4 separate regions of the Homo sapiens genome follow, and regions 1, 2 and 3 are each linked to region 4. The links come from fine-mapping of genetic effects on gene expression. A gene starts in region 4. Each other region holds a variant in brackets. All regions are shown on one strand. Distances are from middle to middle.

Region 1 (8,107 bases), 150 kb before region 4:
CCCAAAACCAGGGTTGACTTTCATCTAGAAAACAACACAAACATCTGGACAACTTCAAGCCCCTGGCAGGCTGAGAACTTCTTACTGCTTTGACCCTCTAAAATGAAGTCTTCGTGGGAATCAAAATGGGCCAAAGCTGAGCACAACTAAAAAGGAAAGCTCATCCTCCCACTCTGCACAGAGAGCAAAAGCAAGGGGAACTCCCCTAAATGACTGGATCACTGGGATCACCCAAGTAGCCCCACAGACATCGATGTCTATAGCCGGTGGTCATCTCTCTGCCTTCTCTCATCCTAAGCCCCTCTCGTGTAGCATCCAACCGAAGCCCACACGGATGGACGCCTGTCCACTTCCCCGGCCTCAGAAAAGATCCGGACCGCTCCTGTGCTGACTCCGCCTCGGCCCCGCGGCCCCTCGGCTCACCCCAGGCAGCCAGACAGTCGATTTGCAGAGGCAGCTTTTCTAGGATCGGCACTGGCTCGAAAGCGTCGTGCATGGCGGCAAGGGGAGAGTTGCCACCGCCGTCTCGCCCAGAGTGTTCCGGGCCGGGCTGGGGTCCGGAACGAGTCTGGGCTAAGGGTAGACCGGGATCCGGCCAGGAACCCCCCGGCTACAGGCCCTTCAACAACACAGCCATCGTCAACCCCGGACTTCCTGCTAGTTAGGCCCGCCTCTTCCGCAGCCGAAGTCCCGCCCCTTCCTCCCGGTGCACTCTAAATGAATTGTTTTGTTGCTGAGTTGCCATCGTCACTCTGGACCCATAGCTACTCCATCCCGAGTAGCCATGGGCTTACCATAGAAGGAACAAACTCTTAATCTTAGAACTGCTTTAGGCAGTGGGCGTGATGGTTAAAAACTCGGCCTTTGGCGTCGACCTCAGACGGAGATCTACCAATTAGGAAATTAGCTGTGATTTAGAAAATTTAATATTTCGATGCCATACTTTCCTAATCTGCAAAATTTTTGTAAATACCTGTGACCTAGTGTCGTGAGCGCTTAGCAACACCTGACACCCACTAAGCTCTCAGTAAGTGGTAGCTTTAGTATTACCATTATATCCCAATTAGTACAAGCACCTTACCTTAATGCTTTCATGGTTGTTCTAGGCCAGTGGTTCTGAAAGTGGTTCTAGACCAGCAACAACAGCAGTAGCAGCAGCACCTGTGAACTTGTTAGAAATGCAAAGTTTCAGGCCCATTCCAGTTCTACTGAATCTGAAACTCGAAGGGAACAGCAACCTATGTTTTAATAAACCCCAAGGTGAGTCCATGCACTTAAAAGCTTGAGAACCACCATTTTAGGTTAGGGTTGTTCAGCGATAGCACTACCGGCATTTAGGACAGGATAATTTCTTGTTGGGGGAGGGGGCATGTTCTGTACAATGTAAGATGTTTAACAGCATCCCTAACTTCCACCCACCAAATGCCAGTTATCTTCCCCACAGAGGTATAAAAATGTCTCTTTTCCGTATGTCCTCTGGGAGGCAAAATTACCCTGAGAACCACCATTTGAGGCCAATGCTTTTCAAATTTAACGTGCATACAAATCACCTAGAGACATTGTTAAAATGCCTCTTTTGATTCAGTAGGACCAGAGTAAGACCCTCAGTTGAGCACCAAAAATCTCCCAGATGTTGCTGGTCCCTGGATCACATTTTGAGTAGCAAGAGTTTAGGCAAGAGATGATTCACTAACTCTTGGAAGTCAGTGAAATAAGCCTCCTTTTAATTTGATGACCACATTCCTACCAATTCAACTTTCCAAAGCTGTGTCTTACATCCTAATATTCCTTTAGGAAGGTGTCATGGCTTTTCCTCCTATAGGACCTGGGACCTGTACTGTCTGCGGTTACCTTAGTATTCCCCTTGAAGACTTAAAAAACAACAAAGTTTGGGCTGCAAGAATGATCTATATCTGGTCATTTCCCCCTAGGAAAACATCGTAGGTCAAAAAATTAAGCATTTGGGTTTAAAGCAAAAATGTAAAAGAAAAAGGGTAAGTCTGTGATATGAAGTCAAAAAAACTGGTCCTGGTCATTTTATTTTTACACAATATCAGTTTCTTCATATGTAAATTAGGAATACTTGTCCCATCTTTACCAAATGCTGTTCTGATAATCAAGTGAAAAGTACTTTCAAGTAGTCAAAAACATGAAAATTGCTACACAAATCCTGTGTTATAGCTGATTTTCACCATAGAAGCTGATCACCTTCTTAAAAATTTAGAATTACCAGCTGTTGTGCTGGAAGGTCTAGTACCTTTTCGTTCAGGCCCAAAACCCTAAGGTTTATATTGTTTTACAGATTACTGCAAAGCTATCAATTTCTTCTGAACCTAAGAAATGACACACTATATCTATTCCCAGTAATACAGAAAGCTGTAAGTAGAATTATCAGGGCCCAGGCTATAGAACTTGAACTATACACTCCCGCTTAACACAATGGGCTTTTTTTTTTCCTAGTCTCAAGTCAACATCAAAGCAGCCTAAAAAAATAATTTGACCAACTATCCTGCTGCATTACAACTATTATTCATCTGCTACGTTTTAATATGCAATAGCAGCATGCAACAATACCACCAGCTTTTGGCTAATGACTTAGCATGAGAATATAGTCAGTTCTTCAGATTGCTGTTCCTCAGAGATACTTCCTAGGAAACTTTTTTAAAAATCACCATAGCAAAGAGTTGTAGAGAAACTACCTAAGGGTTAACACTTTCACTGCAGTATGAGTTAGTGAAGATTGTGGTCATGTGGTCATTGGTTTTAACAGAAAATAAGACAATCTAGAATAAAAGCCATAGAAAGAAATTTTTCATGAGTTTGACAGAAAGAGTCTTTAGAAAAAGTTTGAAAAAAATGAGAAAAATACATTAATTTTGTTAAATTTTTTTATATTAAAAAGTGGCATGAACTTTTTATGTAGAACAAAAATCTTGGGAAGGCAAAATTGGATAAAACCATTAAAACAGAAATAGAGTGCTTCAAATGAATCCCATCACCTTGTGATGTCCCTTATTAACAGTCTCTAAACCAATACCAGATACCAGAACAGTCCATCCTAAAGAACGAGCAGCAGTCCAGGGCCTCCACGCTACTTCATGCAATAACTGTTTAAATTAAGCCAGCAGGACCTGTTTCCTTTGTATAAGCTACAACTTCTGAAGCATTACAGTTCCTCTAGCACGGTGCTCAATCACAGCACTTGGAGCACCTCTCTGCATAAAGGCAAACAAAACATTGCCTAAGGACCCTGCAATGCCACCCTTGGAGGCTTACAAAACAGTAGTTAAAAGTTTCGGAGTGTGCACCACATTGCCAGCAATGGGATGTGTCACAATAGCAGATGTCAAAAGAGTTAAGCTAATATTTCTCTTTAAAGTACATCTGAAATAGAAAAATCTTTAATATACACCATTTGTAAACAAAATTGCACTTGATTTTGCTTTTTTAAATGATCTGAATCATACTGTAACAGTTTCTCTTTTTTTTTTTTTCTTTTGATCATTGATAGAACTATGGCTCCTTAACTCAGAAGGGCCCTTTTTTCTCAAAACAACCTCTGCAAGATGTAACCTTGACTTCCCAGGAAAATGAAAGGTAGTTAACAATTTCCCCCATCACCTATGTAACTCCCTAAATAAATAAAAATTACAGGCAGTTGCTCCTGGAGATTACATATTATGGTGTTGATGACAATCTTTTAGAAGACGTTAAACTTTTTAGTTTGTCAGATTTAAAAAATGAAACATTACAGAAAGTTCAGGAACAACACACTTAAGTTGCATGAACATCCATGTCAGAGTCTGGGAGGAAAGGGGGCAG[C/T]AGTGTTGTAAATAAGAAGCTCGTAGATTTTTCTCATCTTATGAACTTGTTTTCAGTAAGATGTTCTCTTTGTTCTGACACCTCTCGCCAACTCCAATGCCCAAAGATCAAGGAACAGATCAGGATGTCATTGCTTCCTTTAATCCCATGGAGCCGTACAGAAGACTGACACAGATGCTGATCTCTTCCCTGATGGTAGCCATCTTTAACTGCAAATCTTCCCATTCCTTACTCCATTTTGGACCTTTCAAAGTGTGTGATCATTCGTTCCTAGGGAAAAAAAAAAAGGTTGAAGTATATTAGGTTAAAATGATCTATATTCCAAATATCTTCTATACAGACTATCCAAGCAAACATCTTCCACGAGTACTTTATGTTAATTAAATGTTTAGAGAAATGGTTCCTAAACATTTGTGAAGATTTTGAACATACAGATGTCCAGACCTCACCCAAGAACAACTAAATCAAAAGCTCTAGGCTTCTGGACAGAAAATCAGCACTCAGAAGGAAATGTATAGAGTCAGCTAAGATCTTATGTAAACAAATATTTACATAAGATTAGGCTTTAATAAAAATGTGTAACTCCTCTAATTCAGGAATTTCACTTGAAGACCCAGTGAAGGATGAGGGCAAAGACGTGCACCTAGTTAGCACTTTGCACTTTAGAATGGTTAGGAGGGTTGATTTGTTATGTGTTTTTTACTACACTTTTTAAAAATCATGTAAAAAATAAAATTACATTTAATTTAATATAGTATTTACAGTATCCCATTTCAATTAAAATAATTAATGTACTACCCTTAAATTTCCCTTCTTAGGCAATTTTATACCTTAGAGTTAATTTTCATTTTTCTTTTGCTTCATTTGCGAAGTACCTCTCACTATTGTATCACAAACTGACAGAACTACAAATCCTTTTTGAATATAATCAATCACATCAGATAATCTATAGATGTTTCCCTTTTTCTTAAAAATATCCTTTCCGATGCTCTCTGTTCTCCACTCCATCCAAGCCTGGTGCCCAGCTGCCAACCTGAGAATTTCTTACATCATACTGGGAATTTTTCTTGTCTCTGTGTTGGACCCTTTATTTCCTAGATCCCAAGTCTTTTTCCTAGCTTCCTCATTTTTGTGGAGAACATTTTCCCCTACTTTCTTCAGAAACTGCATATAGAACATCAATTATTTTACTTCTTGTGTGACTAGAAACATCTTTATTTTACCCTCATAATGATAGTTTAGTTGAGTACAGAATTCTAGGTTGAAAATGATTTTCCTCAGAATTCAAAGGCTTTGTTCTGGCTCCCAAAGATGTTGTTGAAGAGCCTTATGCCATTTTGATTCCTGGTCCATCATGTAAATTGTTTCTCCTGTAATTCATTTAAGGTCTTTTTCAGTTTTAAGGGAAAAAAAGGCCTTGGAGAAAGTGATGTCAGCAAGATGACAGAATAGGAAGCCCTGGACACTCCTTCCCTCTACAGACACACTGATTCAATAACACATGGAAAAATTCCCTTTGTGGGAAATCCAGAAACCAGTTGAGGGTCTTCTGCACTATAGGAAAGCATGAAACCAGCTGAATCAAAGTCGGCAGAAAAACCTGAGGCACCCTCTTGCCATAATTCTTCCCTTCCCATGGACCCAGCACAGTACCACATGATAGAGAGGAAACCCTCAGCTCCCAGCTTCTTTTTGCAGAGGGAAGGAAATGACTGGAATGTACATCCAACATTCTGACTTTTCTGGAACCTGCACGAGAGACTGTTTTCTGTCTTGCCTGAGTCCGAGAGCTAAAAACAAAGGGCCCAGGTTGGAAGTTGCTGAAATCAAAGTGGAAGTTTGGACTAGCAAGCATGAGCTCACTACAGCCGCTCCCCCAGCTCAGTGCAGAGTAAGCAGGTAGAATCCCCAACATCCCCAAATCCTAGCTTTTCCCTAGGGAGGAGAGATGGACTGTGAAAATGTTCCAACTTTGTAAGAGGTTACCTGAGGGAATGGTTTCTGTAGGGAATGGTTTGAAGCACAGATGGGACCAGTATATTTTAGGTGCCTGGGGCCAGTATGAACAAAAAAAGAGCTGGGCTATGCCACTGGCTCCAGGAGACCCATGATACAGCAGATAAACACAAAAGGGAGCAAGAGATTATAAATTCCTGGGGAGGGAAAAACCCAGCAAATCCCTCTGATTGGGAATACATATGCAGAAGTCCAGAAAAGACATAATACAGAGTGGGTTAGAGAGGCTATCAGAATGATTGATGAGGGTGTTCTCCTGTACAATGCCAGTCCATGAACACTGGAAAGGTAACTGTTTTTTTTTCTAATGCAATGAAACCAACACAAAGAATTAAGGAAAATAGAGAATCAGTGAAACATGGCCCAAACAAAGGAAGAAGATAAATCTCTGGAAACCAACCCCAGTGAAACAGAGGTATAGGAATTATTTGAAAGAGAATGCAAAACAACTATCATGAAGATGTTCAACGAACTCAGGAGAACAATGCATGAACAAAGTAAGAATTTCAATAAAAATATACAAAACATTTTTAAAAATATGCCAAGAAACTGGATAACCTAGAACAAAATATATAATTCCTAGAAGTATACAATCTACCAAGACTGAATCATCAAGGAATAGAAAATCCGGGGGGGGAACACACAACCTGGTAAGACCTACAACAAGATTCCATCAGTAATCAAAAACATCCCAACAAAAAAACAGCCCAGGACCAGATGGCTTCTTTAGTTGAGTCCTACCAGGTACTTAAAGACAAAGTAACACTAATCCTTCTTAAACGCTTTCAAAAAAATTAAAGACGAAAACATTTATTTGGAAGGAACTTCCAAACTTATTCTATGAGGCCAGCATTACCCTAATGCCAAAGCCAAAGACATGACAAGAAGAGAAACGACAGGCCAATATCCCTGATGAGCAGACGCAAAAATCTTCAATGAAACAATGGAAAACAGAATTTAACGGCACGTTGAAAGAATCACATACTATGACCAAGTGGAACAAAATAGAAAGCCCAGAAATAAAACTACACATACATGGTCAACTGATCTTCGAAAAGAGAGACAACACTACACAGTGGGGAAACTGACAGTTTCCTCAACAAATGGTGCTGGAAAAACTAGATATTCACATGAGAAAGAATGAAAGTAACTCATCTTCACTATACACAAAAATCAACTCAAAATAGATTAAAGACTTAGACAAGTCAAAATAGATTAAAGAATTAGACATAAGATTTGAAACCACAAAACTCCTAGAAGACAACCTAAGTTTCTTGAAATTGGTCTTAGCAGTGATTTCTTGTCTAAGACACCAAAAGCACAAAACAAGAGCAAAACAGACCAATGGGACTACATCAAACTAAAAAGCTTCTGCACAGCAAGGGAAGCACACAACAGAATGAAAAGCAACCTACAGAATTGGAGAAAATATTTGCATACTACATACAGTCACGTATACTTAATGATAGGGATACATTCTGAGAACTGCATCATTAGGCAATTTCATAGCTGTGTGAACTTCACAGAATATACTTACACAAATCTAGATGTTATATAGCCTACTACATACCTCGGCTATATGTATAAGCCTATTGCTCTAGGCTAAAAACCTGTACAGCATGTTACTGTACTGAATACCAAAGGCAACTGGAATACAATGGTAAGTATTTGGGTATCTAAAGTTATCTAAACATTGAAAAGGTACAGTAAAAATTCAGTATTGGCCAGGTGCGGTGGCTCACGCCTGTAATCCCAGCATTTTGGGAGGCTGAGGTGGGTGGATCACAAGGTCAGGAGACCGAGACCATCCTGGCTAACACGGTGAAACCCCGTCTCTACTAAAAAAATGCAAAAAATTTGCCGGGCGTGGTGGCGGGCGCCTGTAGTCCCAGCTACTTGGGAGGCTGAGGCAGGAGAATGGCGTGAACCCGGAGGTTCTTATGGGACCACTGTCATATATGTGGTCCGTTGCTGACTGAAATGTGGCATAGGACTGTATCTGATCAGGGTTAATATCCAAAATATATAAGAAACCCCTACAATTCAACAGCAAAAAATCAACTAACTTGATTAAAAACTGGGCCAGGGACTGGAAGAGACATTTCTCAAAAGAGGGCTTCCAAATGGCTGACAGGTATATAAAAAAAATGCTCATCATCACTAATCATCAGAGAAATACAAACCAAAACCACAAGGTGTCACGTCACACCTGTTAGGATGGTCATTATCAAAAAACAAAAAATAACAAATGTGGGCAAAGAAAGAAATT
Region 2 (8,107 bases), 270 kb after region 4:
TTGTTCTCTGTTAACATATAGAAATGCTACTGATTTTTGTATGTTGATTTTGTATCTTGCAAGTTTACTGAATTTGTTTATGAGTTCTAACAGGTTTTTGGTGGAGTCTTTAGGTTTTCCCAAATATATCATCTGCAAACAGGGATAATTTGACTTCTTCCTTTCCAATTTGAATGCTTTTTCTTTCTTTCTCTTGTCCGATTGCTCTAGCTAGGACTTCTACATTGAATAACCGTGGTGAAAATGGGCATTGTTGTCTTATTCCAGATCCTAGAGGGAAAGGCTTTCAGTTTTTTCCTGTTCAGTCTGATACTAGCTGTGGATCCCTTCTTGTATATGGCTTTTATTGTGTTGAGGTATGTTCCTTGTGTACCCAGTTTCTCAAGGGTTTTTTTTTCTCATAAAAAGGATGTTGAATTTTATCAAATGCTTTTTCAACAATAGTTTAAATGATCATATGGTTTTTGTCCTTCATTCTGTTGACATGATGTATCACATTCATTGATTTGCATATGTTGAGTCATCCTTGCATCCCTAGGATAAATTCCACTTGGTCACGATAAATGATCTTTTTTTTCTTTTTTTTTTTTTTTTTTTGTGAGACTGAGTCTCACTCTGTCGCCCAGGCTGGAGTGCAGTGGTGCAATCTTGGCTTACCGCAACCTCCATCTTCTGGGTTCAAGTGATTCTCCTGCCTCAGCCTCCCAAGTAGCTGGGACTACAGGTGCGTGCCACTACACTCAGCTAATTTTTTGTATTTTTAGTAGAGACCAGGTTTCACCACGTTAGCCAGGATAGTCTCGATCTCCTGACCTTGTGATCTCCCTGCCTCGGGCTCCCAAAGTGCTGAGATTACAGGTATGAACCACCACGCCCAGCCTGAATGATCTTTTTCACATGTTGTTGAATTTGGTTTGCTGGTATTTTGTTGAAGATTTTTGCATCAATGTTCATCAGGGATATTAGCCTGTAATTTTCTTTTTTTGATGTATCTTTATGTGGTTTTGGTATCAGGGTAATACTGGCCTTAAAAGATGAGTTTGCAAGTATTCCCTTTTTCATTTTTTTGGAGTAGTTTTAGTAGGATTGGTATTAGTTCTTTAAATGTTTGGTAAAATTCAGCAGTGAAGCTGTCAGGTTCTGGGGTTTTCTTTGCTGGGAGATTTTTATTACAGCTTCATTACTTGTTACTGTTCTATTCAGGTTTTGGATTTCGTCATGGTTCAATTTTGGTAGATTGCATGTGTCTAGGAATTTATCCATTTCTTTCTAGGTTTTCCAATTTATTGGTATATAGTCATAGTAGTCTCTAATGGGACTTTGGATTTCTGCAGTGTCAGTTGTAATGCTTCCTTTTTCATTTCTGATTTTATTTATGTGAGTCTTCTCTTTTTTTCTTCATCTGTCTAAAGGCTTATCGATTTTATCTTTTCAAAATACCAACTTTTCATTTTTATTGATCTTTTGTATTGCTTTTTTCATTTCAATTTCATTTATTTCTGCTCTAAGTTTTTTTCTTCTGCTCATTTTGTGTTTGATTCGCTCTTACTTTTCTAGCTCTTTTTTTTTTTTAATTAAAAAAATAGAAATGGAGTCTTACTATATTGCAAGAGTTTATAGAGCTTGAGCCCAGGCTAGTCTTGAACTCCTGGGCTCAAGTGATCTTCTTGCCTTGGCCTCCCAAAGTGCTGGGATTACAGACATGGACCACCATGCCTGGCCACTTTTCTAGTTTTTAAGATGCATTATTAGGTTATTTGAAGTTTTTCTACTTTTTTGATATAGATGCTTATTGCTGTAAACTTTTCTCTTAGTAGTACTTACACTGTATCCCATTTGTTTCTTCTGTTTCCGTATCCATTTGTTTCAAGAAATTTAGGCCAGGCATGGGGCTTACACCTGTAGTCCTAGTACTTTGTGACGCCAAGTTGGGCAGACTGCCTGAGCTCAGGAGTTCAAGACCAGCCTGGGAAACATGGTGAAACCCTGTCTCTACTAAAATACAAAAAAAACCAGGCGTGGTGGTGTGCGCCGGTAGTCTCAGCTACTTGGGATACCAGGGCATGAGAATTGCTTGAACTCGGGAGGGAGAAGTTGCAGTGAGCTGAGATGACGCCATTGTACTCTAGTCTGGGTGACAGAGCGAGATTCCGTCTCCAAAAAAAAAAAAGAAATTTTAAAATTTTCTTCTTATTTTGTTCAGTGGCCTAGTGGTCATTCAGGAGCATGTTGTTTAATTTCCATGTGTGTGTATGGTTTCCAAAATTCCTCTTGTTATTGATTTCTAATTTTATTCCATTGTGGTAATAGAAGATAGTTGATATGATTTCAGCTTTTTGGAATTGTTTTATTATTTATTTTTATTTATTTTTTCCTTAACCCACCTTTCAGGAAGATTTTTTTTTTAAATTATTTAAGATGTGTTTTGTGGCCGAACATATGGTCTATTCTTGAGAATGATCCATGTGCTGAGGAGAAGAATGTGTATTCTGCAGCCATTGGATGAAATGTTCTGTAAATATCTATTAGTTCCATTTGGTTTACAGTGCAGATTAAGTCCAACATTTCTTTGTTGATTTTCTGTCTGAATGATCTTTCCAATGCTGAAAGTGGGGTGTTGAAGTCTCCAGCTATTACGGTATTGAGGTCTCTCTCTCTTTAGCTCTAATAATATTTGCTTTATATATATCTGGGTGATCCAGTGTTGGGTACATATATATTTATAATTGTTACATCCTTTTGCTGAATTGACCCCTTTCTGATTATATAATGACCTTTGTCTCTTTTAAGTTTTTGTCTTGAAATCTATTTTTTCTGATACACATGTAGCTACTTCTCTTTTTTGGTTTCCATTTGCATGGGTTATCTTTTTCTCTCCCTTTGTTTTCAGTGTATATGTGTCTTTATAGGTGAAATGTGTTTCCTGTAGGCAGCAGATTGTTGGGTCTTGTTTTTTAAATCCATTTAACTCTGTCTTTTGATTGGAGAGTTTAGTCCCTTTACATTCAAAGTTATTATTGATGAGTAAGGACTTCTGCCATTTTGTTATTTGTTTTCTGGTTGTTTTGTGGTCTTTTCTTCCCTCTTTCTTTTCTTCCTGTCTTCCTGTTTTGTGAAGGTGATTTTCTCTGGTGACATGTTTTAATTTCTTTTTATTTTTTGTGTATCTTTTGTAGGTTTTTTGATTTGAGGTTACCATAAGGCTTGCAAATAACCCATTCGTTTAAACTGATGACAACTTAACACTGATTATTAAAACAAATAAACTAACAAAGAGAAAACTAATAAAAATGTCTGTAATCCTAGCTACTCAAGAGGCCGAGGCGAGATGATCCCTTGAGCCCAGGAGTTTGAAGCTGCAGTAAGCTATGACTGTGCCACTGCACTTCAGCCTAGCTGACAGGATAAGACCATGTCTCAAGAAAAAAATAAATAAAGAGCCAGACACAGTGGC[G/A]CACACCTGTAATCCCAGCACTTTGGGAGGCTGAAGTACGTGGATCACTTGAGTCCAGGAGTTCAGTACCAGTCTGGGCAACATGGGGAGACCTGTCTCTACAAAAATACAAAAAAATTAGCTGGGCATGGTGATGCACACCTGTAGTTCCAGCTGCTGGGGGGCCAAGGTAGGGAGATCGTTTGAGCCCAGGAGGTCAAGGCTGTGGTAAGCCAAGATTGTGCCACTGCACTCCAGCCTGGGGGACAGAGCAAGACCCTGTCTCAATTAAAAAAAAAAAAAAGAACAGGGAGTGTAGTCTTGAGTTAGCAGCTCCTTTGTCCCTAATTACGTGTATTACTTTGTTTAATCTTCACAACAAACCTGTATTACAGATACAAAAATAAACATTTTATACCTAAAGAAACTGAAGTTTACAAAGTTTAAGTAACTTGCCCAAGATCACACAGCTTTGAAGTATAAGAATACACTACACCTTGGAATCGTATCAGAGTTGTCACAGAATTGAAGGGAAAGTTGAAAAATGGGCAAGAAGGCATGGGATGCTAAGCAGCAGGGACCCCAGGCAGAACCATATCACAGAATCATCTGATTTGAGCACACACTTGGCACTTCTACCACTGTATGCCCAGCAGCAGTGCTATTGGATCCTTGATGCCAGCATGGACAATTTATTAACTATTCTTTATTTTTATGTCTTTCTTTCAAAATTCAAATGATAATCTAGTTGTCAAGTGACATCTAGTTGTCCGGCCCCGTTTCTTTCTTTCTTTTTTTTTTTTTTTGAGATGGAGTCTCACTCTGTCGCCTAGGCTGGAGGGCAGTGGCACGATCTCAGCTCATTGCACTTCCGCTTCCTGGGTTCAAGCGATTCTCCTGCCTCCGCTTCCCAAGTAGCTGGGATTATAGGTGCCCGCCACCATGCCTGGGTAATTTTTTGTATTTTTAGTAGAGACAGGGTTTCGCCATGTTGGCCAGGCCTGTCTCGAACTCCTGACCTCAGGTGATCCACCCACCTCATCCTCCCAAAGTGTTGGAATTACAGGCCTGAGCCACCGCGCCTGGCCCTGTCTGGCCTCATTTCATGTGCTAGTGTTGTCCTAGATGGAGAGGAATATCTGGCCTGTTTGGCTTCTATAGTAGAGCATTGAGCTGTGCTTCCCACCAAGACTGACACAACCAAAGATTCAAAGGAAGAGTATTTTGATGCTGGGCAACAATACAAAGGGTAAATATCCGCTGTACCAGCTGTGGGTATGCAGATGCCCACGTAGCATTCTGCTGAAGACTGGCTGAACTAGGAAGCTGTGCCTTCCCCATAAAGCTGGCTATTTTTTCCTGAGACCAGAGTCTGCCTAACAGAGCTCAGTAGGACTTCCAAGCAGTATACCAAGTACAGGAGTTTTCACATGAGGACCTCTGCCTATTTCTGATTCACTAAAGCAGGGGTAAATGACCAGCAGAACCAGCCAGCTCTTAGGGTCAATCTGAGGAGGGAGTGTGTAGAAAATAAATGCATGTGGAAAACACCTCCCTAACTTCTGGTCTTACTGATCTTCAGTATGGTATCCTAAGACCCTGAATTTGTATGTTATTGGGCAATATTTCACTGCAGCTTTACCTGATTAACCATATTAAATGTTTTCTTACGAGAGATACAGAATTATTTTGCTTGCATATCTTTGCTCTTCTACACTCTCTTTGCCTTAAGTTTAGAGACCATATTACTTTTGTATCTTATCTTCAGAGTCTAGTATTGTGTCTAGATACACTAGGCACTTAAAAAATTTGACCGGCTGAATGAATGAATTTTCCTTAGCTATCTTTTTATGAAGCTAAATTGATTCTTATGAAATGGTAGTGAATTAATAGTCATGTATGTTTGAAATATTTTATATTTTTTTAGATTAGAAAATAATTCTAAATCTGCTATGAGAAGAAGGACCACAGTGATATTTCCTCTGCTTTTGTTGTTACAGGTTTTCCAGGATTTAGGGATGGAAGTACTGTCTGGAGTTGCCAAAGGCTATAACATATGCCTTTTTGCTTATGGACAGACAGGCTCTGGGAAGACATATACCATGCTGGGGACCCCAGTGAGTATTACAATGATATATATTCCTAATGCCACAGCAAGCCTGAACCTTGCATTGTCCTTACTACTGTGAGACAGAATATGATTTCTGTAGGCAGTCAACTTTAAAGAAGATTGAATGAGCCTTCTTCTGTTTTAAGAATGAGTTTTTCGGCTGGGCGCAGTGGCTCACGCCTGTAATCCCAGCACTTTGGGAGGACAAGGTGGGAACCCGGGAGGCGGAGCTTGCTGTGAACTGAGATCGTGCCATTGCACTCCAGCCTGGGCAACAAGAGCAAAACTCCATCTCAAAAAAAAAAAAAAATGAGTTTTTCAGCATTTAATTGGAAGGTAACCTTTGAATAATTAACCCTTATTTATTTATTTATATATTTTTGAGACGCAGTCTTGCTCTGTCGCCGAGGCTGGAGTGCAGTGGCGCAATTTCAGTTCACTGCAAGCTCCGCCTCCCGGGTTCACGCTATTCTCCTGCCTCAGCCTCCAGAGTAGCTGGGACTACAGGCACCCGCCACCACGCTTGGCTAAGTTTTTGTATTTTTAGTAGAGACGGGGTTTCACCGTGTTAGCCAGGATGGTCTCAATCTCCTCATCTCGTGATCTGCCCGCCTCGGCCTCCCAAAGTGCTGGGATTACAGGCATGAGCCACCATGCCCGGCCTTAACCCCTCTTTATTAAACCCTGAAGAGCCTTAGAATTTTACAGCTCCCTTTGACAAAGCAGTTCTTGTCAGTCCTGCTGAATTTCTACTTATCTCCAGGTTCATTATTTGGATCTGTTTTGCACCTTTGTTGTGGACAAGACCTGGACTAAATCTTAAGTGCATGCTAGAGCTGTGCAGAGATTTGATTATTGTGGCCAAGCTCCAAGCCTACATGTGTTAGATCTGTGTGTTGGAAGAAAGCAGGAGAACTAGCTCCTGAGTCAGGGGCTTTCAAAAGTATGCAGGATTTAATGAGAGGCTTCCTTTATCACAGAAAATCAGGAGGGCAGAGTTGCTTAAGAATACCTTTTTGTTTTGGGTTTAGAAATATCCTGGTCAGGGTGCCAGGTGTAGTAGCTCACACCTATAATCTCAACACTTTGGGGTGGCTGAGGCAGAAAGATCTCTTAAGCCCAGGAATTTGAGAACAGTCTAGGCAACATAGGGAGACTCCATCTCTACAAAAAATACAAAAGTTAGCTGGGTGTGGGGGCACATCCTGTGGTCCCAGCTACTTAGGAGGCTGAGGTGGGAGGATGGCTTCAGCCTGGGAGGTTGAGGCTGCAGTGATTAGCCATGATCTTGCCACTGTACTCCACCCTGGGCAACAGAGTAAGAGACCCTGTCTCAGCTGGGTGGGGTGGCTCATTCCTGTAATACCAGCACTTTGGGAGGCTGAGGCGGGCAGATCACAAGGTCAGGAGTTCGAGGCCAGCCTGGCCAATATGGTGAAACCAAGTCTTTACTAAAAATACAAAAATTAGCCAGACATGGTGGCGTGCGCCTGTAATCCCAGCTACTTGGGAGGCTGAGGCATGAGAATCGCTTGAACCCAGGAGGGAGAGGTTGCGGTGAGCTGAGATTGTGCCATTGCACTCCAGCCTGGGAAATGGGACGAGACTTTGTCTCAAAAAAATAAATAAAAAGAGACCCTGTCTCTAAAAGTATATATGTCCTGTTAGGTGGGTAACAAATAAACACTACACAGGGACATTCTATAGGACATGATTCCTCTTAGATGATTATCCCTGATGCCTTGGGCCTAGCTCATTGCTCGCTTTGTCCTGTGTTTAGTGTGATTTCATAGTATTTGACATTAAAAGAAGAATTGGGGCTGGGCATGTTGGCTCACACCTATAATCCCAGTACTTTGGGAGGCTAAGGCAGGCGGATCACCTGAGCTCAGGAGTTCAAGACCAGCCTGGCCAACGTGGTGAAACCCCATCTCTACTAAAAATACAAATTAGCCAGGTGTGGTGGTGGGTGCCTGTACTCCCATCTACTTGGGAAGCTGAGGCAGGAGAATTCCTTGAACTCGGGAGATGGAGGTTGCAGTGAGCCGAGATCATGCCATTGCACTCCAGCCTGGGCAACAAGAGTGAAACTCCATTTCAAAAAAATAATAATTAAAAAAAAAAAAAGAAATTGGCCACTAAACGAAAAGTATAAAGCCCTTAACCGAGTACAAGTTAGCACTGGATACAAGATGGGAAAAGAAACTACCTCTTTCTAAATGTGTTTTTTTGCTGTTGTTGTTTTTGTTGTTTTGTTTTGTTTTTGAGATGGGGTCTCACTCTGTTACCCAAGCTGGAGTGCAGTGGCACGATCTCAGCTCATTGCAGCCTCTGCCTCCTGGGTTCAAGTGATCCTCCCACCTTAGCCTCCCGATTAGCTGAGACCATAGGCACACGCCACCATGCCTGGCTAATTTTTTTGTATTTTTAGTAGAGACAGGGTCTCCGCAGGTTGCCCAGGCTTGTCTCTAACTCCTGAGCTCAAGTGATCCACCCACCTCGGCCTCCCAAAGTGCTGGGATTACAGGGGTGAGCCACCACACCTGGTCTAAATGTGTATTTTG
Region 3 (8,107 bases), 78 kb after region 4:
ATTCCTGGGCTCAAGTGATCCTCCCACCTCAGCCTCCCAAACAGCTAGGACTATAGGTGTGCATCACCACACCCAGCTGATTTTTATTTTTTATAGAGACAGGGTCTTGCTATGTTGCCCAGGTTGGTCTTGAGCTCCTGGCCTCAAGCAATCCTCCTGCTCTGGCCTCCCAAAGTGCTGGGATTACAGACATGAACCATAGTACCTCGCCTAGAAATGTAAATTTGGGAGCTTGATCACAAGCCTACTGGATCAGAAACTCTGGCAAGGGCTGCATGTGGTGGCTCACGCCTGTAATCTCAGCACTTTGGGAGGCCAAGGTGGGAGGACTGCCTGACCTCAGGAGTTCAAAACCAGCCTGAGCAACATGGTGAGACCCTGTACCTTAAAAAACAAAAAACAAACAAACAAAAAAAACACCTCTGGGAGTGGGGACCAGTAATATGTGTTTTAACAAGCTGTCCAGGTCACTGTGATGCACACTAAAGTTGTGAGCCAGTGCCTCTAGGGATTATATTTTTAAAATTATAACAAGCTAGTTCAAATTAATACTTATTCCCAGTAAAATATAAGATCCTTGTCCTAGCACAGCTCCATTCCCTCCCCCTTCTTTATGTTCCTGTTATCACATATATTCCACCTATGTTATAAACTTAATGATAGTCATAAATTCTGCTTCACATACCTCCATCTTTTAAAGAAATTAAAAACATATTGTATATAATTTTAAATGTAATTTTCTCATGTCTTTCAGTGCATTTAGGTTTAAAAAACTCTCAGAGGAGATGTCCATTTCTAATTCTGCAGATTTAAAAAGTTTATACATTTTGCTCTTTTTTTTTTTTTTTTTTTCCTGAGACGGAGCTTCGCTCTTGTTGCCAAGGCTGGAGTGCAGTGGCACAATCTCGGCTCACTGCAACCTCCACCTCCTGGGTTCAAGTGATTCTCCTGCCTCAGCCTCCCAAGTAGCTGCAATTACAGGCATGCACCACCATGCCTGGCTAATTTTGTATTTTTAGTAGAGACAGGGTTTCTCCATGTTGGTCAGGCTGGTCTCAAACTCCCAACCTCAGGTGAATCCACCCGCCTCTGCCTCCCAAAGTGCTGGGATTAGAGGCGTGAGCCACTGAGCCCGGCCTACATTTTTCTCTTTATTCTATCTAGGATTAGTTTTGACATATGATATGCATAACATTTATGGCAAAGACCAAGGAAGGTATATTATTAATAGTAGGAAGTGAAAAAATACTGGTGGAGAGAGACAGAAAATATGGTTTATGTGTAAGTCTCATATCTACCTAGGGCTACAACAATGTGCTAAACATTGTTTAGAAGCAAAAAGGAGATGGTGGGTAGAATGAAGCGTCTGCCACAGTGTCTCCACTCCACACAGTAAATACAAAGGCGACTCAATATGAACCACTTTGGATTTCTCTGGACCCACCTACCTTAACATTATAGCAGCGGATGGTATGGTCACTGGACCCGGTGTAAAGGGCAGCATTCTTCCCGGAGGTCTGAGTAACCAGGAGGCAGTTAACTTTGGAGGTATGACCCTCAAAGACACCAATACATTTCCGACTCTAAAGTTTAAGCACAGACCAGATTATTACTTATGAGATATAGGAGGATTAGATAATATATTTCCTCAACAAAAAGATGCTAAAACATTCAGTTCACTGCTGTATCCTCATGTCTAAAACAGCACCTGGTACACAAAAGATGCTCAGTAAATGTATGTTCACCAAGTGCCTAGCAAACAGTCACAGGCAATGAGGTATCTGAAAGTATATGTTAGTTGAGCCATACCAGAAAATACTTATGGCAACACTGTAAGACAGCCAGAATTTTAATTAACGTTTAGGGCAAAGCTTTCTGACATATGGACCAAGGACCTAGCAAATCCAAACTGCAGCTAATTTCCCACAAAAGATGAGCATTTGATAAGCAGTTTGTGAGAATGCACCATGGTATTCAAAAACGTCAGGTGCTATCACAGGTCTAGTGGTTCTGGTGTTGTTTCTTTTTTTTTTTTTTTGACAGAGTCTCGCTCTGTCCCCCAGGCTGGAGTGCAGTGGCGCGATCTCAGCTCACTGCAAGCTCTGCCTCCTGGGTTCACACCATTCTCCTGCCTCAGCCTCCCAAGTAGCTGGGACTACAGGTGCCCGCCACCACCCCCGGCTAATTTTTTGTATTTTTAGTAGAGATGGGGTTTCACCATGTTAGCCAGGATGGTCTCAATCTCCTGACCTCATGATCCACCCACCTTGGCCTCCCAAACTGCTGGGATTATAGGTGTGAGCCACTGTGCCCGGCCACTGGTGGTGTTTCTTATGGGTACATTCCAAATGTTATCTCAGTGCACATACTGAGATCTATTTAGAATGTACATATATACATACACATACATATTTTGATATCCTGTTCCCCTAGATCTTACACTTATACATCCTGGTAGCACTGCTTCCTTTTTTCAGTCATTCGTGTTAATCCTCATATCATTAAGCTAAAGGAATCTACACACCTGTTGCCTATATAGCAAACACATTTTCCTGGTCCATCATCTAACTTTTTAATTTTCACTGACTCTAGCAATTTTAAATATTTTCATGGTATTCATTCAGACATCATGTTCTTCAAATTTCTTAAGCTTTCATTGTTCATAAACATAATTAGTTTATTAACAAATTCAAATTCAAAACTCAAAAGTTCATTCTTTTGAGAGTAATAAGCATCAGATAATACTAAGTGTGAGGCAGTGGAAAAGTGTTGCTCTCCTTAATAACTTGAACTCTGTAATCAATCACTTGTCAGGGAAAATACCTCCTCCAGTACTTCCCCATATTCACTTCATCCCTCCTCTATTATGTAGCTGCTATGCAAGTGACCCCATTACCAACTCCAGCATTGGGACCTGAACAGTCCAAGACCACTGGTGTAATCCCAACCCCCTTTGCCACAGGCAAAGGTGATCGTTCAGGGAGTAAAACACAGGACCCTTCTGTGCTGGTGGGAGGGAAAAAGAGACTCCAGTGGCTCCTGACATTTACCCTGTAAGCAGGAGGGGAACTAGCTTTCAGGAAGAGGTGATACCAGAGAAGGCAGAGTAGGGAGACAAAAAGAAATTAAGTCCCCAGTGACCTTGCTGAGCTTCTGGATTAAATGCATCTAAAGTCAATCTCAGGCCCACCCCTTCCTTCAGACAGCCAACAAATTCCCTTTATTGTTTAAAAAAGTATAAACTGGATTTTCCAAAACCTGCAACCAAAAACATTCTACATGTTCTATCAACTTACCACCAGATTATAAACCCGAACAGTTTTATCTGCTGAACAGGTATATAGCAAGTTCCCAAATATCTGAATTGCATTTACGGCAGCTTGGTGTCCCTCAAAGCTTCCTTCTGTGGGTTCATCATCATCTCCTGGCTCTGAAGATATTTCTGGAAAACAAGAATAGGTTTCAGAGACATGTCTGCTAGAGTCTGAAAAGATACTCAAAAATCAGAACTATTATACAATACAGTAGTCCCTAGATTAAACCAAAAGTAGATCCCTTAAATCTTAGTTCCCCTATCAGACTACTACAATTTTCAATACCCATCTTCACTATGAAGACTGCATGATAAGCAAAGGCAGAGAAGGCCTTTCACTTAGGAAAAAGATAGATAATTATATAATGAGCTTTTGGGCCAGGCGTGGTGACTCACACCTGTAATCCCAGCACTTTGGGAGGCCAAAATGGACGGATCACCTGAGGTCAGGAGTTGGAGACCAGCCTAGCCAACATGGTGAAACCCCATCTCTACTAAAAATACAAACATTAGCCAGGTGTGGTAGCGTGAGCCTGTAGTCCCAGTTATTTGGGGAGGCTGAGGCAAGAGAATCACTTGAACCCAGAGGCAGAGGTTGCAGTGAGCCAAGATCACACCACTGGACTCCAGCCTGGGCGACAACGACTCCGTCTCAAAAAAAAAAAAAAAAAGAAAAAGAGCTTTGAGTGATACTTGGAAGGTA[T/C]CCAATCTCTCCCACACTTCCAAAAAGTTATTTCTTTGAGTAATGTAGTATTCCTTAAGCAGTTCCTTCTGAAAGCAAATATCCTTAGAGCCAATGAAACCTTAATACTAATTAGTTGAACAGATAAGGGAGCCGGATAAGACAGATGAGAAAGGCCAGGCATGGTGGCTCACGCCTGTAGTCCCAGCACTTTGGGAGGACAAGGCAGGAGGATCACTTGAGGCCAGGAGTTCGAGACCAGCCTGGCCAACATGACGAAACCCTGTCTCTACTAAAAATACAAAAAAAAATTTGCCAGGCGTGATGGCGCGCACCTGTGGTCCCAGCTATTTGGGAGGCTGAGGCAGGAGAACTGCTTGAACCTGGGAGGTGGAAGTTGCAGTGAGTAGAGATAGCGCCACTGCACTCCAGCCCAGGTGACAGAGCAAGACTCTGTTACAACCAGTCAATCAATCAGATAGATGAGAATAAGAATCTGAAAGACCAGGATTTGAGGTTTTAAGAATATCAGAACTGTTGATCAAGGCAATCCTCTTGGTGATAAACCCCTCCCCATTCTCCTATTCTATAAATATATTTAAGTAGGTTTAAATCCTGGCTTTAATATTTACAAGGCTTTTAATTCTGTGGTTAACTTAAATAAAACTGAACAGCAAATACCTGAAGAATTCTTTGATCCTTTTATGGAGGAGATCACAGTCTGAGTTTCTGCCACACTACAAAATAATAGCAAAAGTGTTCTCAGCATCTGTGTGAACAGGGCAGGTAGTAAAAGTAAAAATTTCTGACTCAAAGGATTTTTCTAAACAATGGGCAAAGTAGCAATGATATAAGAGATTAGATTTTCCATCTGAAATTTCTTAATGAAGGGAAATAAAAGCAGAGTGAATATTTATAACACAGTCAAAAGAGAAAGCAGAAAATCTCTACTGCTGAGCTTTAATTTTTCCATATCCACAATCTCTACTGCATTCACATAAAGTTTGGTTTTTAAAGAAATTCTGATTCATAATTTCAAATTCTATTTAAAAAAATAAAGTTGGTGAAAGTTGTTCTGACTGGACCAATACAATATTCTTACCTTACAGGGATGCCATCTTTATAGCGAGTGCCAATTTCACTGGTAGAGCTAACTTCATCACACCCAGAACGAGACGTTTCTAGTGGGTTTTGCTCTGTAGAGTTCCAAATATCCTTTTTAGATGGGCTGTCTGGTTTCTCTTCTCCTGATTCTGAAGAATCAATGGCTACTACTTCTAACTGAGGATTAGGAATTTCTAGGACTTCCAGAGACGAGTCACTATCTGGCTCATCTCTGACACTCTCCTGCTCCCGACCAGTCCTGCTGTCTTCCCAAGTGGAGGTTGTTACTTTCCCCCCTTTAATTAACTTTCCAGCTTTTACTTTCCTTACAGGTTTAACAGTCAAAACATCCTGTTCAGTGTCACTATTCTCAGGAACATGGGCAGCCCGTAGACTTTTCTTCTTCCGGAGTTTCTTCTTTTTCTTGCTTCCCCTAGTCTCAGCTGATGTCAAAGTGGATTCTGCCTGTTGTTCAGGCTGGTCAGCTGGAGAGTGGGGTTCCTTCTCCAAAGGGGTTTCTGAAGCAAAAGACAATCTTAGAAAAGAACTGGTACAGGCTTCAGACCCACTATTGCCTTTGGTTGGCTCTTCCCCTTCTTTATTTATGCTAGAAAGACCAGCTGATTGGGAAGAGGGAGAGTTTTCTCTGTTTCTGGTATTTCTTTGCTCCACAGAAAACTTCAGTTCTTGGCTAGGCTCATGGAAACTTTCTGTTGACTCTGGTAAGGACAATCTAGCAGTGATGACTGGATAAACTGGACAACTGTCACTGATCTCTCCTGAATTGAGAGGAAAAAAATTATTGCATCCTTTTTTGTGTTTGCTGCAATTTATCACTGACTGAAACTCTACCAAATATTTCAATGATATGTTCAGAAAACCATGACTGTTTCAGCTGGTATCTCACCCCTCAGTTTCCCATCACCTACATACACTCCTATGACAACACTTACTACCCTCTGCCTTGCGTGAATCTCACAAACACTGTGTGTCTTATTCCCTACAAAAGCTCCTTGTGGGGAGGGATTGTTTCTATCAATCTTTTTTCTTGTTTTAAATGTCCACACATTTAACATTGTGGTTTATTCTTAGTAGACACTTAAATGTCTACTTAGCTGAAGTCCTTTTACTTTTATTTCTTTGAAGTTTTCATTATCCACACCCATCCAATTTAGCTACAGCTTAGTAGTTAAAAAAATTTGCTGACTTAGAAATGTCAATTTCCTTTGACTTAGTTACTTCATGTCTAGGAATTAAAAGTGATGAAATAATCACAGATGTACTCAAAGACATATACAATGCAGTGTTACACAGAATATGAAAAAAGTTAGAAAACTAAATATTCAAAAAAGATTCACCACATAAATTATTGTTTAGCCAGATTATGCAACTATTCAAATATTATGCAACTTGTAATATAAAATACTTTAGATAAATTATTTTTACAACAGAAAAATCATTATATATTAAATGGAAAAAGTCAGGTTATATATGACTGCTCCTTTGTACAAGTTCTACATGTAAACACAAAAATATGATTTAAGAAAGATTGAAATAATATGTAATACGAAAAATAATAGTACCAAAATATTTCATGTAATCCATAAATATATACACCTACTATGTACCCACAAAAATTTAAAATAATTTTTAAAAATATGCTAGGGGCTGGGCAAGGTGGCTCATGTCTGTAATCCCAGCACTTTGGAAGGCTGAGGCGGTCGGATCACTTGAGGTCAGGAGTTCAAGACCAGCTTGGCCAACATGGTGAAAGCCTGTCTCTATTAAAAATACATAAATTAGCTGGGCATGGTGGTGGGCGCCTGTAATCCCAGCTATTCGGGAGGCTGAGACAGGACAATCACTTGAACCTGGGAGGCAGAGGTTGCCGTGAGCCAAGAGCATGCCATTGCACACCAGCCTGGGCAACAAAAAGCGAAACTCTGTCTAAAAAAAAAAAAAAAATATATATATATATATATATATATATATATATATATATATATATATATATGCTAAGTCACGCGCAGTGGCTCACACCTGTAATCTGAGCACTTTGGGAGGCCAAGGCGGGTGGATCACTTGAGCCCAGGAGATCAAGACCAGCCTGGGCAACATGGTGAATCCCCATCTCTACTTAAAAAAAAAAAAAAAAAAAATTAGCCGGGCATGGTGGCAGGCATCTGTAGTCCTAGCTCCTCTGGAGGATGAGGTGGGAGGATCAACTGAGCCCAGGAGGTCAAGCCTGTGGTGAGCTGTGATTATGCCACCATACTCCAGCCTGAGTGTCAGAGTGAGACTCTGTCTCAATAAATAAATAAGCTATATATTTGATACTAACATCTAGATTAATATTGCAACATAGTACTGGTAGTAAAATCTAGAGTAATTTTTTAAACTTTTTGCTTTTGCTCAGGAAACCACACAATGCCAGTTTGTTGGACTTAATTTTCAAATACAGCACCACTGTGGTAATGCAAACTTCTAACAGGATTTTACATAGCTTAGACGTATTCTCAAATGATAACCAGGTAAGTGTTATTTTTTGAAAAGAGTGAAAACCCTGGCTATTTCTCAACAGCAAGTTCTTAGTAGATGATTCCAAACCCCATCATGGCCACCTGCCTCTCACGCTTATATTAATCCTGGTTTGTATTTGAGATTATATAGACAGTAAGTGCAAAGAAATTCAGAGGATAGACCTTATTCAGAAAATTGGCTGAATTAACTTCAACCCCATTTATTTCACACGAAACAAATTTTGTACTTATCCTAATAAATGGAACCTTGTGGGTGCTAATACAAAGTCAACTCTAACCCTAGATTAGAGGAAATGAAAGAAAATGACTGATATTTAAATTACATTCTCTAAAATATTTTAAAAGAATCCTCCTGTATATATGAAGAGAATTCCAGTGACAAATTAGTTGTACTTGCTCATTTTAGTTTTAATGAGCAAGTATGGCTTATATCACTCATATAAAAATGCCCCAGTCTCACTACTGGGA
Region 4 (8,107 bases):
AAAATTAGCAGGGCATGGTGGCACATGCCTGTAATCTCAGCTGTTCAGGAGACTGAGGCAGGAGAATCGCTTGAACCCGGGAGGCGGAAGTTGCAGTGAGCTAAGATTGCACCAGTGCACTCCAGCCTGGTGACAGAGAGAGACTCCATCTAAAAAAAAAAAAAGAGAGATAATCTCTAAAATTTTGTGAGTTTTCTGATACTTAACTGTCAAAATACAGCAGATATCTCAAGTTTCCTCAGTTGTAAAATGGACTTAGTGAAACTTGCAGAGTTTTTCTACAAATTTAAAATATCTTATGTGTACAGAAAGGGAAAAATAGTAACATTACCAGGGAGAAACCCAGTAAACATCACTTTAGGCAAGTGATCAAAGTTGACATCACCTGTAATAAAACCTATCAATATCATGTGCCCCCAAATATGGTTTGAGGAGGTAGCCATGTCACATCTGTGACAGTCTTCCCCTAAATCCATAACCTCAGTCTAATCATGTGAAAAATATCAGAGAAACCCAAATTTAGGGTCATTCTACAAAAACCTGACAAGTACTCTTCAAAAGTGTCACGGTCATGAGAGACAAAGACTGTGGAATGATCAGAGACTGGAGGACACTATCTTTGCAACTCTTTTGTAAGTCTTTGCAAGTCTTTTGTAAGTCTAAAATTATTTTAAAATAAAAAGTTTTTTAAAGGTCTCTGTGAAGTGGCTAGCTCCCAGTAGGCACTTAATGAATGAGAGGTATTATAATGATAAGCAAAGACATTGCTTCCAATAGTGTTAGTAATCAAAGAAATGCTTCTTGGTGGAAAAGACAGAGCCATTAGTTGGCAATGCTGTGCAGCAGAAACCATTCCAGCCACAGATATTACATGACCGTGGGTGAAATATGTTATAAAAACTAGTTCTTTATCCTTGAAGGGGCTTCTGGGAATTGAAATGTGCAGTTGTTTATGTGTTCATTATCTGCCCTTTGTTCATGGGCTCGAGTTGGACTTCTCCCTGATAGCATTGGTTTCCACAGCTGTGCCATTGAATAAACCTTGAGTTTGGACCTGTTCATCTGAGAGAATGTTTTATCCACAACAACTGACAGAGCAAAATGAATGGCACCTTGCCCTTTCTGTGTTTGATATGCCCACCCTGCTCTGACAAGAGGCTCGCTGGTGTCACACACTTCTGTTAGTTACTCACAGATGGTGCTGGCTGAGACAGCTGAGGAAAGAAAGCTCAGTGGGTATGCGGCCCAAGACAGCTCCTTCGCCTGGAGCAGATCAGCAGAGAAACTTTGATTGCACTGGCAAAGCCAGAAGTGTAAGAAATTTCTCTTTGCATAGGAAAATTTCATTCACCAGATATATAACACGCATTTATTAAGGGCCTTCTAAACCTGAGAGGGAAATGGGAACCCACTTCCCAGCTCCACGGTCTTATGGGCAAACGGGAAGTTAAATAAGCAAAAACAATACAGTGTGGGTCAGTGCTCTGAATTTCAGGGTGGGATAGAATGCTAGGCTGGGACCCAAACTTATGACAGTGGGGGAAAGAAACCCCACCTTTGCTGTCTATGCCACTGGTGACTTTGAGGGTGGAAGTCAGTCTTTTTGTTGCAGGCAGATAGGCCAGCTTCTGATTGGAGATGCTGCATACCACATGAGCCTGGGCAGATTATACCTATTCCTGTGCTGTCCACATAGCAGATATTCAGTTAATGCCCATTGAGTGGATGCTGATTTGCGTCAGCGAGTAAATGTAGCATTCGACCTGATCTAACTCCAAAGTAATATTAAATTCAGGTCTTCTCTAACAACACCATTTATTGAGTGCTTAAGAAAATCCTGGCACTGTGTAAAATGTATTACATAAATTATTTAATTGTTACCAAAACCTAATAACAGAATGACTGTAATTGTACCTATTTTATAGGTGAGAAATCTGAGACAGAAAGGAAGAAATAACTCACCTAAAGTTACACAGGCACAGCCAATAAGGGGCCAACCTAGACTTTGAACCGAGGTGGTCAGTCACCAGAGACCACTGTCCTCTATTCTGCCTCTCCAAGACTAGTAAAAAGCCCTGGGCATTTTCTTGGAGGGACAGATGGCTAGGCTGATGGTTCCTGCAAGCCCAGACATAGAGTCCTTCAAAGCCGCAATCCCAGGGATCAGGAGGCTGATAGTACTCCCTATTTTACCTGTCACTTCCCACCTTCTTCCATAGCCTCTAATCTTGGATTATTGAGACTGGTCGCATGGGAACAGGCATGACTGCAGCCTAGGACATGCCTCCACTCTGCCATACTTGAAATGTGCTCATCTCCTTACAGCCCAGGGAGCAGCTATTGTGGGTAGAAGACAAGGTGGAGGCCAGGCAGGCACTTCCCTTCCCCAGAGCCACTTATGCTCTCATCTAAGAGCCCTGAAACCAGGTGTGACATCCCAGGAGTTGACAGACAGTCTGGTTCAGTATCTAATTCCAACTTCTGTCTCAGATGCCTAATGTGGCATGGCTGAATGAGTCAACATATAACCTGTACAGTAAGTCCTCACTTAACATCATTGATAGGTGCTTGTAAACTGTGACTTTAACGAAAACATACCGTGTGCTGTAGGGACTTAACTCTTGTTTATATCAGTTAGCCTGGTTTCACTATACAGTACATCATTTTGCTTAAAGTCACAGCTTACGAGAACCTATCGATGATGTTAAGTGAGGATTTTCTCTGCTCAGGTGCACTTTTTTTTTTTTTTAAGACGGAGTCTCTTTCTGTCACCTGGGCTGGAGTGCAGTGGCGTGATCTGGGTTCACTACAACCTCTGCCTCCTGGGTTCAAGCAATTCTTCTGTCTCAGCCTCCCAAGTAGCTGGGATTACAGGCACCCGCCGCCACACCCGGCTTATTTTTGTATTTTTAGTAGAGACAGGGTTTCACTATTGTTGGCCATGCTGGTCTCGAACTCCTGACCTCATGTGATCCACCCGCCTCGGCCTCCCAAAGTGCAGAGATTAGAGACGTGAGCCACATGGCCCAGCAGGACCACTTTTTAGCAGATTCAGTCCCAGTGTTCATTTTGTGGATGGGGAGAGACAAGAGGTGGCAAGGTCAAGTGTGCAGGTAGAGACAGGGATTTTCTCAAATGAGGACTCTGCTGAGTAGCATTTTCCATGCAGACATTTCCAATGAGCGCTGACCCAAGAACATTCTAAAAAAGATACCAAATCTAACATTGAATAATGTTCTGATATCCTAAAATTTTAGGACTAAAAATCATGTTCTCTAAAATTCACAGAATATTTTTGTAGAATTCAGTACCTCCCGTTCACCCTAACTAGCTTTTTTGCAATATTGTTTTCCATTCATTTGATGGCCAGTAGTTGGGTGGTCTGTATAACTGCCTACTCAATAACATGTCAGCAGTTCTCAGCTTCTTTCCAGTGTTCACCTTACTCAGATACTCCCTTTTCATTTTCTGGCAACACCAGCACTTCATGGCAACAGAAATGTCCCTAGCCAGGTTCTCTCTCTACCATGCAGTCTCTCTTGCTCTCATACTCACAGTGTTTCTTCACATCTATTTTTAGTTTTCCTGGCTCAAGCATCTTCAGGCCACTGAAACACAACCCTCACTCTCTTTCTCTCTCCCTCTGGCATGCATGCTGCTGGTAGGAGACCCCCAAGTCAACATTGCTTCAGAAATCCTTTAGCACTCATTTCTCAGGAGAACTTATGGCTTCAGAATCACAGCTCGGTTTTTAAGATGGACATAACCTGTACGACCTTCTGATGGGCTTTCAACTTTGAACTGGATGTGGACACTTTTCTCTCAGATGACAGAATTACTCCAACTTCCCCTTTGCAGTTGCTTCCTTTCCTTGAAGGTAGCTGTATCTTATTTTCTTTAAAAAGCTTTTTCTTCCAAAGCCACTTGCCATGCCGACCGTCATTAGCGCATCTGTGGCTCCAAGGACAGCGGCTGAGCCCCGGTCCCCAGGGCCAGTTCCTCACCCGGCCCAGAGCAAGGCCACTGAGGCTGGGGGTGGAAACCCAAGTGGCATCTATTCAGCCATCATCAGCCGCAATTTTCCTATTATCGGAGTGAAAGAGAAGACATTCGAGCAACTTCACAAGAAATGTCTAGAAAAGAAAGTTCTTTATGTGGACCCTGAGTTCCCACCGGATGAGACCTCTCTCTTTTATAGCCAGAAGTTCCCCATCCAGTTCGTCTGGAAGAGACCTCCGGTGAGTAGCTTCCTGCTTGCTGGCTGGGTTTTCCCCCCACGGAGGAGTCCTCTCACTCAGCACCTCCGGCAGCTCAGCTGTGCACATGGGCACTGGGGGAAGGATCCTGGCAGCAGCTCTGCTGGGCTCTGTCTTTAAGTGTGAAGCAGGGAGGAGAGGAACAGGTCTCAGATATTTCACCAAATCTCAGCAAAATCCAGAGGGAGAGCGCAGGAGGTGGGGCTGATTCTTATGCTCTGGCTCTTTCTCTCTGAAAAAAAAAAAAAAATCTTGCTTTTTATAAAAGTGGGTGGAACTCAGTTTAATTCATCCTGTAAAAATAAATATTCCTTTCTCAGAACAAATTCCAGACAGCCCAGATGTACCTGTTCGTTTTAAATATTATTCATCTTTGTAAGATTATTTCAGTTTCTCTGGCTAAAATCATGATGTTATTCTTCTTTAATTTACCAATGGCCATATCTTTCTGAAACACAGAAACCCTAGAAAGAGAAGAGTCATAGGCAAGGAATATTTTTTCATGCATAAAATGTTGGGGTTAAAGAGAGAGAGACCTAGCAATCGCTTTTGTCCACCTACCTCACCTCATAAGTGAGGAGTCAAGGCACACTAGAGTGAAATATATCTAGTGGGCACATGACAGAGCCCGGATTAAAACTTTCTGTTTTAGGAAACTCTCCCAGCCTCTGGGTTTCATTTACAGTGATCGCCAGGAGGGAAATCACATTCCCCTGGCTCACCTCTCTGATCATCCCTCCAGTGTGACTCTTGTTCTTAATTCGAGAAATATTTATTGAGCATCTACTAGTGCCAGCACTGGGCAAGCAACTGGGGGGACAGCAGTGAGTAAGAAAGACCAAAATTCCAGCTGTCTTGGAACCTAGGGTCCTGAAGGGAAGATGGGCATTGAACAAGAGTGACATTGTCAGGAGACGATGTTCTGGGTGCCACAGGATCATGTGGCAAGGAGAGCTAACCTGGTCCAGGGAGACAAACCCTCTCTGAGGAAATGATGACAAGCTGAGACCCAATACTATTGATTAGCCATGGTTTTCTTTAACCTAAGGTGGGCCAGGCATGGTGGCTCATGCCTATAAACCCAGCATTTTGGAAGGCCCAGGCTGGAGGATTGCTTGAGCCCAAGAGTTAGAGACCAGCCTGGGCAACAGGGTGAAAACCTATCTCTTTTGTACTAAAAATTCAAAAAATTATCCAGGCATGGTGGCACATGCCTGTGGTCCTAGCTACTCAGAGGCTGAGGTGGGAAGATCACTTGAACTCGGGGAGTTGAGGCAGCAGTGAGCCGAGATCATGCCACTGCACTCCAGGCTGGGTGACAGGAGTGAGACCCAGTCTCAAACAACAACAATAACAACAACAAACCTGAGGTGGAGTACTAGACAACCCTGTATATTCCATAGGGGCTCTTCTTGGTTCTATGGTAAGGCCCATAACTGTCCTGAAGGCCTTCAGTTTAGAAGATAACACTACTCTGCTATCAGAGTAGTTGGACATGTCACAACCCCCTGCTGAAATATCTTCAGTGACATCCCTCTCTCGGCCCCCACTGCCTTCAGGACAAGTCCAAACTCCTTAGCCAAGCCATAGGCCCTTCTCAGCTGGTCCCTGCCTACCTGTCCAGGCCCATGTCCATCCTCTTTCCCCAGATCCTGACACACCAGCAGTGCTTGGACATTTAGCTGCTCTGTAGTTCCAAGTCTTCTCACACCGGAGGCCTTTGCTCATGCTGTCTGTCTGCCTGACATGCCTTTTTTGTTCCTATCTGAACCTCTGCTCAGGTGTCACTTCCTTCAATCTTTCTCATGACTGATTTCCTCTCACTGAGAGCAGAAATCCTTCCTGTTCATCTTTGAGGCCCCCTCACCAAGCTCAGGCCAGTCCCATAGTGGGTACTCAGCTGATGCTGGTGAGTGAAAACCCACGCCCAAGGGCCTTGACCAGTGAGACAGGATAGGCCTGCGTTCCCAGGCAGGGAGTTCCTAAAAGCCCTTTCTTGGGCCAGACATGGAGGCTCATGCCTGTAATCCTAGCACTTTGGGAGGCAGAGGTGGGAGCATCAATTGAGCTCAGGAGTTGGAGACCAGCCTGGGCAACATAGTGAGACCCTATCTCTATAAAAAAAGTTTAAAAAAATAAAAGCTCTTTCTCAGAATGGGGAAAATTAAAACCTACAAATACTGTTTTCAGTGAAATCATTGGTGGACTTGAGTCTTCAAGCGAGACTTACAAATTAATAAAAATTCTTTAAGGGCCTGTTATGCTCTAGGTACTAGATTGGGCAGTGTCCATGTTTGAAATGAGGGGTGCAGAAGACTTGTCTGTTCTAAATTGTGCCCCCACCACCACCATCACCAACAACAAAGATCCTGGATTTTCCACTGTTTGAGTCACTAAAGGACCAGATAACAAAGGCCACTCTTGGATAAAATGCCCACATGTTCCCCTGGGGTTAAGATCACAGGAACACTGCCCATTGGGTTCACTAGCATAAATGAGAAATATAAAATTAGAGATGGTCAGAGTTGGAATGATTCTTGGAGAGGTGCTCCAGTGTCCTTGCTTTATAGGTGATTAAGGCCCAGAAAGGGCAAATGACTTATCTACAGCCACACAAGTTGACTTGGAACTGAAAAACTGAAATGACTCCAGAACTTTCTGACTGTAAAGCACTTCTTGGAGACATCAGTTCTCCATAAACTTCTTCAGATGTAGTGACCTTTGCCAGCCCTATGCAGTCTGAAAAGACTGTGTCCTATCAGGAGAAGCACCACACAGGTGAGTAAAGGCCTTCCTGCTTTTACTGTCTAAGGCACAGAACCTTTGGAAACCAATCTGAATTTTTTTTCGACCATCAAGTATTATTTATTATAATTACAGTGATAATGATAATAATGATAAAGGGAGAATTATTCCTGGCCAACTATAATTCTAGTTAAAATAGCATGCTGCACTTTCAGCCTTTCCCTCTTAAAAGAAAACAGGCTCTGGCCGACTGTTCCCAGCTCACCTGTAATCTCTTCTCTTACTCACCAGTGCTACCTCACAGACTTTCTTCCTCTACTCGGGAACATCATGCATTGAGTTTCCAGGGCAAACAATCTGGTTCCTCTAGACTTTCCTTATATGATCTATTTCTAGGATCAGAAAGCAAACAAATTATTCAACACTTCTCAACTGTTAAGGCAAGTTTTCTTGATGACAGATCCCAGGGCAGAATAGAATGGGTTCTAGAACAGGGCTTCTGGGATGCTGGTGCCCAATATACTAGGGATAGGTTGGGGATGGGAGGGCAGGTCGTGTTTCATTCCATGGGGTGGAAGGTTCAATTGCACCACACTCCTGGCCTGTCTCCTTCCCATGGTGGGTTTGTAAAGAGAACTTGACCTGTAAAGCCCAGTTCTTGGCTTCTGTCTTTCTCTGGGAAGCAAGCTGCCTGCAAGAAGCATGGCTTCTGCTCTCTGCCCTCCTTGCAGTAAGTTTTCTGGAGGCAAGTCCCCATGGGGAGTCATGCAGGAGTCCCTGGGCCACCTGGTAATGTGTGGTTAACAGTAAAGATAATCGCTAATCTTGAGTGAGAACTCACCACATGCCAGTAACTAAATGCTTTCCATATGTTAATTCATTTAATCTTCACAACAATCCTGTGAGGAAGTACCATTATTGTCCCACTTTACAAAGGAGGGAACTGAGTCTCAGAGGGATTAAATAACTCGCGCCAGATCTCCCAGTTAGTGAGGGTTGGAGCTGGGATTTAAACCCACACAATCTGGCTCTAGAGCCCCAAATCTATCTAATTCTGAGATTTAGATGTCAATATCCATTTTTATTAAACAATAAATGTGGGATTT

Direction of the effects. Alleles are on the strand shown, and positions count from the first base shown. SD is a standard deviation of normalised expression in the study named. Not every link is listed here.
For the expression in thyroid of the gene that starts at base 3,625 in region 4, A is the high allele of the variant in region 2 and G is the other (moderate effect, 0.42 SD a copy in GTEx).

What was found. PIP is the estimated chance that this variant, and not a neighbour inherited with it, causes the effect.
Region 1: its variant is fine-mapped to the expression of CAPN3 in blood mononuclear cells (TOPMed, PIP above 0.99).
Region 2: its variant is fine-mapped to the expression of CAPN3 in thyroid (GTEx, PIP 0.97).
Region 3: its variant is fine-mapped to the expression of CAPN3 in whole blood (TOPMed, PIP 0.97).

The regions. Positions count from the first base shown.
Region 1 is chr15:42,207,658-42,215,764 of GRCh38, forward strand. VPS39 (VPS39 subunit of HOPS complex) reads right to left here and starts at 647. Exons shown (of 25, transcript NM_015289.5): 1 at 424-647. The coding sequence starts at 496. TMEM87A (transmembrane protein 87A) reads right to left here. Exons shown (of 20, transcript NM_015497.5): 20 at 2,790-4,092. The coding sequence ends at 4,051. VPS39-DT (VPS39 divergent transcript) reads left to right here and starts at 744. Exons shown (of 3, transcript XR_932181.3): 1 at 744-1,027; 2 at 1,107-1,260. The variant C/T (reference allele first, on the strand shown) is at 3,823.
Region 2 is chr15:42,629,423-42,637,529 of GRCh38, forward strand. STARD9 (StAR related lipid transfer domain containing 9) reads left to right here. Exons shown (of 33, transcript NM_020759.3): 4 at 5,434-5,550. Among named protein-coding and RNA genes, the nearest start is that of STARD9, 58 kb to the left of the region's middle. The variant G/A (reference allele first, on the strand shown) is at 3,455.
Region 3 is chr15:42,433,936-42,442,042 of GRCh38, forward strand. It overlaps ZNF106 (zinc finger protein 106), which reads right to left. Exons shown (of 22, transcript NM_001366845.3): 11 at 5,098-5,878; 12 at 4,677-4,732; 13 at 3,297-3,442; 14 at 1,449-1,583. Among named protein-coding and RNA genes, the nearest start is that of ZNF106, 53 kb to the right of the region's middle. The variant T/C (reference allele first, on the strand shown) is at 4,017.
Region 4 is chr15:42,355,877-42,363,983 of GRCh38, forward strand. It overlaps CAPN3 (calpain 3), which reads left to right and starts at 3,625. Exons shown (of 24, transcript NM_000070.3): 1 at 3,625-4,238. The coding sequence starts at 3,930. RefSeq lists enhancers at 4,033-4,533, 7,580-8,107.